Homo sapiens: one gene and its partner. The protein of the gene in region 2 interacts with the protein of the main gene of each other region in a biochemical or structural test. Each region holds a gene or a part of one and is shown on either strand. Other genes may lie near its edges.

What was found.
Region 1: the proteins of TOP3A (region 2) and TDRD3 are reported together in a solved structure, tested with the Homo sapiens proteins (one study listed by BioGRID).

The regions. Positions count from the first base shown.
Region 1 is NC_000013.11:60,392,693-60,400,230, reverse strand, and holds the start of TDRD3 (tudor domain-containing protein 3), read right to left. Parts: upstream 3,012-7,538; 5' UTR 2,867-3,011; coding exon 2,826-2,866; intron 1-2,825. UniProt on the Homo sapiens protein: Scaffolding protein that specifically recognizes and binds dimethylarginine-containing proteins. Plays a role in the regulation of translation of target mRNAs by binding Arg/Gly-rich motifs (GAR) in dimethylarginine-containing proteins.
Region 2 is NC_000017.11:18,276,976-18,283,996, forward strand, and holds part of TOP3A (DNA topoisomerase 3-alpha), read right to left. Parts: intron 5,867-7,021; coding exon 5,723-5,866; intron 3,684-5,722; coding exon 3,561-3,683; intron 1,383-3,560; coding exon 700-1,382; intron 1-699. UniProt on the Homo sapiens protein: Releases the supercoiling and torsional tension of DNA introduced during the DNA replication and transcription by transiently cleaving and rejoining one strand of the DNA duplex.

The sequences.
Region 1 (7,538 bases), on a different chromosome or scaffold from region 2:
AGTGAGTAAAATTGTTATCTAGATAAATTCAGAGTCAAATTTCTTCTCCCCGTGAAGTTATTCCATGCATATAATTAAGCTTTACAAGGTACCATTTAGTGCATTATTTAAACATTATCACTACTCTGTAGAAAGCCCTGGAACATTCAAGTTCAAATCAGCAAAATCTAATAGTTTGTGTGCTACTGGCCATTGAAGAACAAAAATTATTTTAAGTCCGCCAGGTAGCTACTTTTGAAGTTATATTTTAAAATACTGATTTTTATAGGGGTTCTAATGAAGATTAAAACCTTAAGAAGGAAAAAAACTGCGCTTAAAAATAATGTAAACTTGAACAGATTGGTCTACATAGATCTTCTGTACCCCCCTGAAGATCACATTTTCAGAATTGTAAACTTTTCAGCACTAAATATTTCCCTAATCTGCTATTTTAGGTGAAGCCTATAGAACAGATTTAACAATAGTGTGTCCATGTTTTAGCATCTACTTCTTTTTAGCTTCTACAAGTAACTAAGTACATAGATTTGAATACTAAGAAAAATGGTTTGTCAGTGACAGTTAACAGAGAACCCCAAGTGTAAGAGCAAACTCAGGATATAAGAACTAAAATGAGTTGGTGAAAGCCCTTCAGTCAGAAATTTTCCCTCCAGTGCTCTTTTCTGCCTTTAAACCTTTGTGATTCTAAATTTTAACATAGTAAGTCCCCAATTAAAGACCTAGTAGAAGCCACCTGAAAGCCTAGGAGATCCTCATGCCTAGTCTGTTCGAGACCTAGCAGGAATTACATGAAACTCACAATTCCTAGAAAGATAGTGTTTTTAGCCCCGCAGATTACTACTGCCTTTATGAGTCACTGCCATACAGAAGCAGCACAGACAGGTGGGAGAAACATAAACAGTTAAGTTGCAATATAAAGTAGCAAATGCTACAATATAACATTGCTGAAGATTTATAACAATATAACGAAGCAGGGTGGGACTCTACCTAAGCTTCTGCAGAGGCCCTGCCCAGAGAATTCTGACTGGCAGGGGCATTCCAAGGTCAACTGTATTAGACTTTACAGAGAACCTACAATCTGGTGCATTTCTTGACAATCCAGATAAGGAGAAAAATAAGACTCACTTCCCTGCCCTGGAAAAGCATAAGAGGCCAGAGAAAACAAAGTCAACACGTGTTCGGGACCTAAAAAATGAGACTAATCTTTCCAAAGGAGGGGGGGTCATGTTGGAAAGCAGTAAAATACTGAGTTTGTAAATGAAAATATTACTAGTGTGAAGGATCAACGCTCAACCTAATGAGAAATGGGGAGAAAGGCAAATGAAAGAGGGATCCAAGATTATTCAGGACACCCTTGTGGGTAAAAAAACTGAAAGAAGAGATTCCTATTGAACAGAAACAAAACTGAAGACAGTGTTTTTAACTCTACAATCTTTTACGCCCATGCTGTTCTGCGAAAAAACTGTAACAACAATAACGCATAAGCGTTAAAGGAACCAGGCCCAGAGCCAGGCCCTCTGTGCTCAACATTCAACTCCACCACTTTCTAGCTATGTCATTTTGGGAAAGTTACTTAACAGCTCTTTGCCTCAGTCTCCTCACCTGTAAAATGGGGTGTATAATAACACAAGTGCCTTTAAAATCAGGAGGGGCTTCTTCAAAGCACAGTTGTGATTATATCCCTCTACTGATCAAAAACTTTATTCACAAAATCAAATCCACATCTTTCACGAACCATATAGATCTTGTGTAGGTTCTGCAAAACAATAAGCGCTTCCCTGTGTCATCTCCAGCAGCTCTGTGCTAGAAAGCCTTTTCCTTACCATCTTTCCAAGTCCACTTTAGGAAAGTAACTCTCCCTCCCATTCCACAGTGCACTCATCTGTTCCTCTGTACGTACGGTTTATCACTATTCCCCCTGGTTTTGTTTGGTCTTTTAATGCCTCACTCTTTCTCCTAAAGCAGTAATTGCAGAGAGCCGTTGCAAATCTTTTTCATCCCCGTTCCTACCCTTCATCCCAGAATGTGCCTGTGCAAGCCTGGGAAAAGCGTTACTGAATTAAACGGGATGATTACAACCGTAATGGCCGCAATTCCAGAAACTGCCTAATTTCGCATAATTTTGTATTGTTTTCAAATCCTGAAAATCTTGACACGAAAGGCCTCTTAAAATCAGAACACCATCCTTTCAAGAAAAGTTCTACCGAGCACCCCCACGAGTTGACATTGCGGTCATTCTTAGCTCCAGAAGTTGTGTGTGTGCCGCGGAAGGCAGATTCACACTGGTCCACACTGTACTTTGAAATAAGGGGTAAGAAGAGGCGGCTCCGGCCGCAGCGCGGGCTGTGCTCTGCTCTGCCCTCAACTTCCTATGGGCCCGCGGGCTCCGGCCGCGTTCGTCCCTCTCCGCCGCACTTCGTTCCCAGCCCTCGCCTCCCGATCCCGCTGCAGAAACACCCCCTCCCCGGAGAAGCCGCGCGGACGGCGCTGCAGGTCCTCCCCGGCGCTCCGGTCGGCCGGGGTCTGGGCCGCCACCCGCCCGGCTCGCGGCCCCCGGCCTCTCCCCAGGCCCGCCGCCCGCCGCCCGGGGCCCAGGCCCGCCGCCCGGGGCCCAGGCCGCCGCCGCCGCCGCCTCCAGGGGACCTAGGGGAACTCGCAGGGCTCCGCGTGGCGCCGGGGGCGGAGCCGGCCCGAAGGGCCCGGGGAGAGGCCGGGGGCGGACGACAGCCTCCGCCTACCCCGACACGCACCCCGCCGCCCCCAACCCAACCTCCCTGGGGCCCCGGCCCGCACCCGCGGCCCGGCAGCCGGCGGGACTCGCCACTTACCAACCCGCCTGGGACAACGCCGCGCCGGCCACCTGGGCCATGGTAGCTGCTTAGGCCGGGGGTGGTGGGGGGCTGGGGTGGGGGTGATGGGGAGGCCTCCTACTTGAGACCCCCCCCCTTAAAAAAAAAAAAAGAAAAGAAAAGAAAAAACTCCTCTGGTCGGCTCTGCAACTGGGCATGCTCAGTGCGGCCGGCGCTTCCGCGTGCGGGTTCCGCTCGCCGCGTTTTCTGAGCGGCCGTAGGGGCCGGCCTGGTGTGGGGCTCCCAGGCTGCGGAGCTCCGGGACCTGATCCACCAAACACCGGCTGGTGGCTGGAGTCAGGACGGTTCAGGGACTTTGCCTCTTCCCCGAAGGCTTTTACTTGTTTTGGGGGGCGCTTTTCTGAGTTGCACACCTTGGAAAGTCGCGAGGAGGTTCTTCGTAGAGCAAAAGTGTGGCGTTTGCAGCGCCCACAGGCGGCCACCTCAGAGAGGGCAGGATAAGGCCTGAGGAGACTGACGGGTTGGCTGCGAGGGAACGCGTCCAGGACCGCGCTAAAAAGGTCACGTTGCGGGCAGCAAAACTCAGAGGTGTCCCCAGCCCATTCTGCACAAAAGTTTACTTTCTTATAAACACTCGTTCCCTTCACCTCGCCTTTTGGTCCGCCCGGACGCAAAGAAAAAATGCAGCTCAAGCTTTTTTGAGTCCCCGCGGGCAGATCGAGTTGCCCCAGTCGGACACCACAGTGAAAATGCCCTGGTCAGCCCAAGAAAACCTGCTTTTAGGGGACATGGGGAAATGGGGCAGTTGTGTCAGTGCTTGTTTTTCCTGTTGCCCTCCCCCTGGGACCATCCGTGTCCTAGCGCGGCCCTGCCACCTTGGCTCTGTACTGCCAGATCTGGCAACCACAGCCGCTTCCCCGCCGATGCCCTTCGCCCGCGCTGTAGAGGGCTGGGGCGCAGGGTGGGTCCCTGAGTGGGCATGCGCGCCGCCGTCGCCCAGCGGCACGGCGGACGCTACCGCGCGATTGGGCGTCCGTGACTCACGCTGGCCAATCAGAGAGGAACAGGCGGAAGGGTACGCGGGCCCAAGAGGCGCTCCCTAAAAGTTTGCTCCACCTTCTTGGTCTTTCACCTCTGCGGCGTCCCGTATTGCGGGGAAAAAGGCTTCTAAGGGGCAGCGTCCCCATCTGCCAGGTCAGGGGAAGAAGACTGTTAGGAACTTAATCCCTATCTCCGCCGCTTGCCGCTGCCCCTGCTTCTAAGGGCATCATCAAAAACAGACTTGGAGCAGAGACTGCGGAACTGGGCAGAGGCGCTCTTGGGATTGGGGAGGAAATTGGCAGTTACGGAAGGAAGGGGATAATTGCCCTGGGTGGAGCTAAAATTCCTTAATACAGATTTTTCTCATTTCAGCTGGGGTATTCCGTTTGGTCTTCCCAAAAGTCATAGTTATAAAATCGCGATGCTTTCGTTAGATGGAATGCTATTGAGATTTGCTCCCAAGTATATTGTTTAGATAATTTTAGATCACAAGTAGCTCCATCCTGTTCGCTGCAATGTGCAGTAGTATGCAGTGTTTAAGTCATACGTATGCTACAGGTATATTTCAATTTATAGTCATCGGCCATCATATACAGGAGCCAGGAATAGATATGCCATTTTAAAGGTAAATAGATGACTCAAAAATAAATTGCCAATAATTTTTATTGGCGGTTAGAATTTTCTGTTACCAATTATTTACATTTTTCAGTTAGTGTAACCTGTTAACTATGAAAATATGTTGTACCAATCATCAGAATTTCTCACTGGTTATAAAGTCATTTGTTCTCACATGTCGTGTGATTCAGTAAGGATTTACCACTGCATGGTCCTTACAATAATAAAGTACTCCACAAAACACTAAATTCTCTTAAAGAATGGGTTTTTTACTGGAGAAATGTGGGACAACATGAGCATCCAAAAAATGGTGACAATAATTGATGAAACACATTGAATTTCTTCGGAGTGCCACCAAAAATGAAGGAGGACAAAATCTTTTCTTTCAGAGCAATACAAGATAGTAAATGTAGAACAAATGATAGAATTAGAAAAATCACAGTTTTCCAAGTCAACCACAATTGATAGAGGAAAATTTATCAGACGATACTAAAAGCCACAGGGTAAAAGACTAGGAGTACAGGATCTTCACATGGTCTCAAAGTTTCAAGCCATAACTTACTTATTACAGAAGGGAAAATGTAGCTTTACCTTTTAAAAAAAAAAATCACTGCCTTAAGAGATCAAAGCTAGAATCACTAATAATGGGACAATCTAATGTATTCTGCTTACTGATGTAATGCAACTAGACATACACATCACTTAAGAAGTATTCTTGCCAAAATGGTTTAACCTGAGTTTAACCAAGCTTGTGGACAGTGGATCCTAAACCAACCCCCACACCCCCAAATCCATTTAGCAATGTCTAGGTTGTCACAATCTGAGGAGGTAGGAGTGTTGTTATGCATCTCATGGGATGCAGCAGGAATGCTGCTAAATATCCTACAAAGCACAGGACATCGCTGAACTCCAAAGAATGATGTGGCCCAGAATGTCAGTAATGCTAAGGTCTAGATGTAAGAAGAAATGTAAAGGACGTATAGGTGATATTTGAGCAAGTTAAACATGAAGACGCAGGCACATAAATCCACAATGAGGCATATTCTCCTCTGGCCTAGACTGTTAAAATGTAATTTAAGACTTTTTTTTTTTTGAGACGGGAGTCTCGCTCTGCCGCCCAGGCTGGAGTGCAGTGGCACGATCTCGGCTCACTGCAACCTCGGCCTCCCGGTTCAAGCGATTCTCCTGCCTCAGCTTCCCGAGTAGCTGGGACTACAGGAGCCTGCTACCGCGCCTGGCTAATTTTTTGTATTTTTAGTAAAGACCGGGTTTCACCGTGTTTGCCAGGATGGTCTGGATCTTGTGACCTCGTGATCCGCACGCCTCGCCTCCCAAAGTGCTGGGATCACAGGCGTGAGCCACCTCGCCCGGCCAGAAATAATTCTTTAGAAAAAAAAAAAGAAGGCTGGGCGCAGGGGCTCACGCCTGTAATCCCAGCACTTTGGGAGGCCAAGGCGGGCGGATCACGAGATCGGGAGATCGAAACCATCCTGGCTAACACGGTGAAACCCCGACTCCACTAAAAATACCAAAAAAAAAAAAAATTAGCCGGGCGCGGTGGCAGGCTCCTGTAGTCCCAGTTACTCCGGAGGCTGAGGCAGGAGAATGGCGGGAACCCCGGAGGCCGAGCTGGCAGTGAGCCGAGATCGCGCCATTGCACTCCAGCCTAGGCGACAGAGCGAGACTCTGTCTCAAAAAAAAAAAAAATATTATTTCAGATTTAAGAGATGCAAGAGACATGAAAACAAAATTCAATCCTGGATCTAAAAAATAAATGAAAAAAATAATTACTGGTGGCCAATTGCAGAAATTTGAATCTGGACTGGATATTGGATAGTATAATGGAATATGGTTTTCTTAAATGTGATAATGTTATTGTCCTTAAATTGAGAATTTTATGTCAAAACATTTATGGATGAAGAAGAATTGGATCTACAAGTTATTTGCAAATGAGTAAGAGAAATACATTTGTAAAATATATAAAACATATAAACATTGATACATGTATATAGGTAAGAAAGAGAAAGGAGGCTGAGGCAGGAGAGTCGCTTGAACCCAGGCGGCGGAAGTTGCAGTGAGCCCAGATCGCGCCACTGCACTCCAGCCTGGCGACAGAGCGGGCCTCCGTCTCAAAAAAAAAAAGGAAAAAAGAGAAAGGAGGTAAATATGGCAAAATATTAAAAATGGGTGAATCAGTTGGAGGAGGGTCCACATGTTTATTTTTTTTCTCTAGGTTTGAAATTTTCCAAAATAAAAAGAAGCGTGGATTACACTAATTTCACATCAAAATTTTAAATTGGAATTATGTTCTGTATAGATAATTTAGTGCCATGAAAAATGGTAATAGCTAACTAGATAAAATGAATTTCCATTTTTAATTAGATAAATCATTGATTTACAGAAAATAGAAAGTCTACAATGAGCTGAAGTTGGGGGAAACCCTAAGGGTAGAAAAAAAAATTGTTAGGTCCAAGAAAACAAAAACGAGGAATGAAATCTATTTCGAGTCTGTGGTAAATTAACAGAAGAGAGAGACTGAAAATCCATTCTCCTCTGTTTCGCCTCTTATCATTTTAGTAAAGGAAAAGTTTCTCAGACTGAAAAGGGTAAAAGAATATGGGTAAGTAAGAATAGAAGCTACAATAAAAAGTGAGATGATAAGAGTGCCTGGCCCTCTGAGGCAAATTACATCTTGTGACTGTAAGCCATTTGCATCCTACGGAATACTAAAATAACCTATGAATGACAGATGAGCCAGTGCCAGAGGGCCCTATTATATTTGAAATCACCTGAAGAACCTATAATTTAAAAGAATGCTAGTTGCACTCACTTATAAAATGAAACATCACAATTTAATGTATCTTCTGGATACATTTTAGATTCCCATACTCACTTTGATTTCAGTAAAAATCAGTCACTTTCCAACAGTTTTACCATGTGACTTTTCATAAGTATATACAAGAGGAATTGGCCTCTTTTGCTTTCACATCACAAGATACAGCTGTATATATTTTAGTTAATTCATTTCAAGCACTAAACTTTGCCATATTAAAGCCATTAAACTTACCATTTTAG
Region 2 (7,021 bases):
GAGTTCGAGACCAGCCTAACCAACAGGGTGAAACCCCCGTCTCTACTAAAAATACAAAATTAGCTGTGCGTGGTGGTGCATGCCTGTAATCCCAGCTACCTGGGAGGCTGAGGCAGGAGAATCATTTGAACCTGGGAGGTGGAAGTTGCAGTGAACCAAGATTGCACCATTGCACTCCAGTCTGGGCAACAAGAGCAAAACTCAGTCTCCAAAAAAAAAAAAAAAAAAAAAGAAATGAGGCTGATGCTTATGGTCTGCCAAGGGTCACGACAGCTGCAAGGGCACATGGCCATGGGACTGGGAAGGCCTATGTACTCATCCTGGTGTCTGTTGCTATGGGACCCTGAGCAATACCCACTTCATGTGTCTGGGTCTCACCTTTCTCACTTATAAGTAAAATTGTGATCATAATGCTTACCCAATGAGGATGGAAGATGCACAGGAAGTATACTTAGCATAGTGCCAGGCATAGGGCAAGTGACACCATTACTGGTAGCTACCCTTTAATTTGGAATGAGGACTGTACAATTATCACCTTGCTGAAAGTGATCAAGTGAGGAAAAGTGAGGTGCAAGGCAGCCCAGGTGCCCCTCCCAATCCCACCATGACCCTGCCTTGCCTTCTTTCTGCTGTCCCCAGTCTCTGAGGTAAACACCTGAAAACTGAAGGCAGGGATTCCCATGCCCCTCCCTGCCTCACCTGGAGCGGTGTTCTCATCGACCCACTGGAAAAAGCCACACTGCTGCTCTCTCGGCTTGGCACATGTGTGGAACTGGCGCCCCTTGTTGGGTCCATCCTTCTGCACAGTCCGTGTGACGGAGGGCTGGCTGCAAAGGCAGGATGTGCCACTACCACTGCCATCACCAGGGTTGCCAAACCCACCTAGGTGGATCCCTGGGCCTGGTGGGCATCCCAGGGAGGCGCCCAGGGGTCTATATGCCAAGGCAGGAGGCCCTCCTGCTCCCGGATTGGGGCTGTCTGCCCACAGGAAGAAGTTGCAGCTACCTCCGTTGCACTTAAAGAACTGCCGGCCCCGGTTGGGGCCCTCCTTACGGACAGTGAGCAGCACAGCCTCCTGGCCACAGTTGCAGGTCACAGAATTGCTTTCACCAGCAGCCGTGGGTGGTGGGAGGGTCTGGGCCAGAGCCTTTGAGGACCCAGTCTGTCTGCTGTCAGCAGGCTGGGGGTGCTGGCTGTTGTCCATCCTGTTCAGGGACTGGTTAGCCTGCAGGCGGCCAGAGGGCTGGCTAGCCCTGGGGGGGCCCCCTGAAAATCTCAGGTCCAGGATCTCCCTCAGGGTGTCGTCGCATCCGCCGATGCAGCAAACAAACTCCAGAGGCATGGTCGGGGGAAGGCTACCGCGCTTAAACTTTAACTTTAACCTAGTGAGGCCAGAAGATGAGAAAAAACATTAACAACCAGATGCCAGCTTCTCCTTAGTCCAGTGAGGGCTGCTTTAGCCCTAGGCCTCTCTCCACCATTCCTTATGCATCAGGAAGCCCACACAAGTCCCCTGTGAGGCCCTCTATCAGCCCACCACAAGCCCCCACCAGTCATCACAGGAGTGGACAGTGGGAAACAGTGCAGATGAAATCTAAGATCCCAGTAATTCACTAAAATAAAAACACCTCTGAGAAGTCCCATGTCTCTGTATCAGCAGTTCTCCAAGTGTGGTTCCAGGGTGCCTGAGCCCTTTCAAGGAGAGTGCAAAACTCTTTTATAGGCCAGGTGTGGTGGCTCAAACCTGTAATCCCAGCACTTTGGGAGGCTGAGGCGGGCGGATCACAAAATCAAGAGATTGAGACCATCCTGACCAACATGGTGAAACCCCATCTCTACCAAAAATACAAAAATTAGCTGGGCATGGTGGCACGCGCCTGTAGTCCCAGCTACTCGGGAGGCTGAGGCAGGAGAACCTCTTGAACCTGGGAGTCAGAGGTTGCAGTGAGCCAAGATTGTGCCACTGCACTCCAGCCTGGTGACAGAGCAAGACTCTGTCTCAAAAAAAATTCTAAGAGGTTATGTCTATTTTGCTCTTATTCTTCCATGTGTATACAACGGAGTTTCCTGGAGGTTCCAGCACATGCAATGACTCAGCAGGCTGACTGCAGAAGCAGATACGGGAATCCAGCTCTCTTCTATTAAGCCAGACATACAAATTGCAAAATGTAAAACAATGTCATTAATGTCATTATTATTTTGCTTTTGAAAATAGGTATTTTATTACCCTAAAAAACAAGTTATTTACAGTAGTATGCAATGCATTTACTAGAAATAAATTATTAAAATTTTTTTTTTTGAGACAGAGTATCATTCTGTCGCCCAGGCTGGTGTGCAGTGGTGCAATCTCGGCTCACTGAAAGTTCTGCCTCCTGGGTTCACGCCATTCTCCTGCCTCAGCCTGCCGAGTAGCTGGGACTACAGGCGCCCACCAGTACGCCTGGCTGATTTTTTGTATTTTTAGTAGAGACGGGGTTTCACCATGTTAGCCAGGATGGTCTCGATCTCCTGACCTCGTGATCCACCCACCTCGGCCTCCCAAAGTGTTGGGATTACAGGCGTGAGCCACCACGCCTGGCCATTTTTTGTATTTTTAGTAGAGACAGTGTCTCACCATGTTAGCCAGGATGGTCTCGATCTCCTGTCCTCGTGATCCGCCTGTCTCGGCCTCCCAAAATGCTGGGATTACAGGCCTGAGCCACCAGGCTCGGCCTATTCATTTATTTCTAGAGACAGGGTCTGGCTCTGTCATTCCAGGCTGGAGAGCAGTGGTGAAATCATGGCTCACTACAGCCTAGACCTCTAGGATCAAGCGATCCTCCTGCCTCAGCCTCCTGACCAGCTTGGCCTATAGGCATATGTCACCACATCTGGCTAATTTAAAATTTTTTTTGGCCAGGTGCAGTGGCTCACATCTATAATCCCAGCACTTTGGGAGGCCAAGGTGGGTGGATCACTTGGGGCCAGGAGTTCGAGACCAGCCTGGCCAACATGGTGAAACCCTGTCTCTACTAAAAATACAAAAAGTGGTCAGGCATAGTGGTGCATGCCTGTAATCCCAGCTACTCAGGACGCTGAGGCAGAAGAATCACTTCAACCCAGAAGGCGGAGGTTGCAGTGAGTCAAGACTGCGCCACTGCACTTCAGCCTGGGCAACCCAGCGAGACTGTCTTAAAAAAAATTTTTTTTTAAATAAAAATTTTTTTTTTTAAAGAGATGGGGTCTTGCTACGTAGCCCAAGCTTGGATGTTGTATTTAATATGTGAATAATTTCCTAAGCCTGGTGTAGCAATCATCTATCTGGAGAGGGCAGGGAAAGAGCCCTTCATGGTTCTTTGCCCATGGCCCACTCCAAACAGGGTCATACCTGCCAAAGCAGTGACAGCATGGAACACAACAGAACTGGACCAGCCCTGCTGAACTGGCTGCTGCAGAACACAGCTACGCCCCTGCAGGGCCTGAGTGGAATCCCCGACACTCCTCTCTGGGTTCTGGCAGGAGCAAGGGAAAGATGGTGTACACACTCCAGAGGAGGCACCTGACTCAGGTGCCCAGCTCACCTGTACACAGGGTGTGGCTGACAAACTGGACACACACTGCTGTCCCTGCTGGCCTCCAGCACCGAGTCAGGAAGCCACACAGCTGAGCGACACTCTGGGAAACCCATGCAGCTGAGGTAGAACCTGGGGACAAAGTGCCATGTCAGATGATAGGAGTGCAGGAGATGCTCTCCGCTGTTGGCCATCAGCTAAGGCAGCCTTTCCTCAGCTGCCCGAGGACAACATTCCCTTTTCTGGATGACACTTAACTGGATACACAAGCACTCATATTGAATTGATTGGGAAAAATGAGCCTTCTCACATCCCAAAAGCACAAAGCAGCTATTGCTGGCCCTGCTTTCTATTTAGAAAACCAACAACCAACCAAGCTGACGCCAGGGGCTCTGTGCTGTGCACTCACACATTCTTGCCTTTCTGCCTCGTGCCAAGTCTGGGCAGTGTCAGGGGCCCCCTCAGTTTGCATGTGAGTAAACAGTGGCTTGGTGTGGCCTGGAAACCTGCCCAGAGACATGCATGCATGTGTGGATGGGAGCCAGGAATGGAAACCCATCTGTTTGTGACAAAGCCTCACCTGCAACATCTACACCCCACCCACTGCCCATCCATCCCATCCCGGTCTCTCCTGGCCAATGTTTTTCAACACCTTGCAGTCATGAAACGTTAGGGTTTGACTAGCTAATATGCATGTGATTTACAAATTCCTCATGAGTGTGCCTGGGTACACTATGAAGGAAAAAAAAGCCCCGAACTCCAATCATTTAAATAAGAAATTTACAATCTCAGAAATGGAAATTAACAGATAAATCATGGAGTGGCAAATCCCACAAGATAATCTCCTGACCTTCTGGAGTAACTCAGAGAAGCATTACAAAAGAATAACAGAAGAACAAACGAATAACTAAAGAATAATAATAATTCTCCAATTCAGAGAATTGGAGAATTCAGAGCTAAAACAAAAGTAGTTATTCTCTCTCCTTATATTCCAATGAGTACTAATCCAATAACCTACCGATAGCAAGGAAAACCCATCGACAGCATTTATTAAGTGCTGAAATATACGCCCAGTCATTGGGCTAAGCCTAGAGTGGCACTGGCTTCTGTCTGTGAGTGACGCGAGCCCTGACACCTGCTTCCAGGTCTGGCCCATAGACCTCTTGTTTCTGAGAGCCTGGGTGGCCTTCTCTTCACTTGGGCCAGCCAGGTTAATGATGGCTGGAGGTGAGGAGTTGAGAAACCTCCTTTCTTATTCAGCAGCAAGGAGCACAGCAGTCCCAGGTGGGCCAGGCAGGATGGAAAAAGGCAGTGAAAACCCGGTTTCAAACTCTGCTGCCCACCACGGCTGCTTGACTCCAAGCAAGCACCTCAGCCCTCTAAGCTGCATAAAAATCCCTGCCTTGCAGGGTAGTTAGGAGAATGGGATGAGGTAATGCTTACAGAGCACCACCCTGCATTACACCAGTGAGGGACGGCACCTGATGAATGATGGCTGCCACCCCTCCACCTCGTCTTTCCCCGTGAACTTCCTCCAGTGGCCAGCCACTGGCTCCAACAACCTGATGTGAAGCTAAATTGCCCACTCAGATCTACTATATTTAAAGCGAAAAGGGAGTTGAGATTTTCAGGCCCCATTCAGAACTAAAACTAGGAGAGAACAAAAGTAGTATCTGCTGAGTATCTACAACACATCAGGCAATGTGCTATATAGTCCTGACCATTTTCACCAAATCCTCACCCTTAACACAGCCTTGTAAGTACTGACATTTTATAAAAGAAGAAATTGGGGTTCAGAGCAGGTAAGTAACTTGCTTCAGGCCACACCACTTATATGCGGCATAAGTGGCATTTGAACCCAGACCCACCTAGATCTGAAGCTCATGCTCCTCCATGTGTTACACATTGGGTATATGATGTCCTATCCACAGGGGACAAAAAAACCCCACTATCATTCAGTTTCTCACCTGCTCTGAATTCCCATAGTGCTTTACACCTCAAAGGCCTGATCCCACCCTGCTATGCTTTTAGGCCAACACCTTGCCTGCAGGTTGGCAACAACAGGCCTGTCTTGAAAGATTCCATGGAGTGAAATGGCAGGGTCTTTCGAGCTACGGCTGACACCGCAGGTGCTGGGGAGCAGAGGTGGGGGCAGAAGGCAGCGCACTCACCCGCCATTCTTCTTGGTCTTAAGGACCATGTCCTTGTTGCACTGTGGGCACTTCCTGATGGGCTCTGGCATGGCTGGGTAGATATCTTCTTGCTGGGCCAACTCTGTCCCATTCCCAAAGTACTGGGCCAAGGCCTCGTCCAATCTGAAGAAAAGGCAAAGACAGACACCCATCAGCCAGCAATCGCTGCAAAGGCACCTACAACACTCTTACATGCACACAACAGGCGTGACCTTGAGAACCAGCTGGTCAGTGAGCCGCAGGCCTCCTGCAGAGAACAGACGGCAGACAGAAGACTGAGCTCACCATGGGCCCTGGTGCCGAACCAACTCTTGGGAGGAGAGTCCAGATACAGGCAGATGCTTCTGCTTGTCACCAGCCCACATTAAAAAGTAAAACTGGGCCAAATGTGGTGGCTCACGCCTGTAATCCCAGGCCGAGGCGGGCGGATCACCTGAGGTTGTAATTTCGAGACCAGCCTGACCAACATGGTGAAACCCCGTCTCTACTAAAAATACAAAATTAGCCAGGCATGGTGGCGCATGCCTGTAATCCAAGCTACTCAGGAGGCTGAGGCAGGAGAATCGCTTGAACCCAGGAGGCAGAGGTTGTGGTGAGCCAAGATCACGCCATTGCACCCTAGCCTGGGCAACAAGAGCGAAACTCCATCTCAAAAAAAAAAAGTAAAACTGCACAGGGTCCATGTACAAACTCCAGGAGTGTCTGTCTGTATTAAGTCTAAACTAGCTCATGCCTGCCTTTTCACAACTGGCATGGGGTACTCTAAAGAACAGAAAATAACAAACTGTTATCTTCTATTACAGTCTCACAACACACATCAGACACCAGATGTATGGGAGTTTTCCCCATACACCAAGCAACTCTCCCGCCACACACCAGTTGGACATCCTCTAATTCAATTCAATTCTGACACTATGCACCTGGAGATCCATCTAACGGTTAAGGGCTCAGTCCCAGAAGACTGCTGCCCCAAATTCCCTCAGATGTCAGTCACAAATCCCAGGCTGTGACCTGTGCTTCTGACTGACTGGCTATAAACTGGGGTTCCTCAGACCCCCTCCTTGGTTTGATTCTCAATAGAGTGGCTCACAGAGCTCAGGGAAACACTTTACTTATGCTTACCCGTTAATTACAAAGGATCCAGGTGAATACCCAGATGGAAGCAATGCACAGGGCAAGGGATGTGGGGAAGGGGTAGCTTCCATGCCCTCTCCCAAACACCCACCCTCCAGGAGTCTTTACCTGTTTAGCTATTTGGATGTGCCCCAAACCCAATTG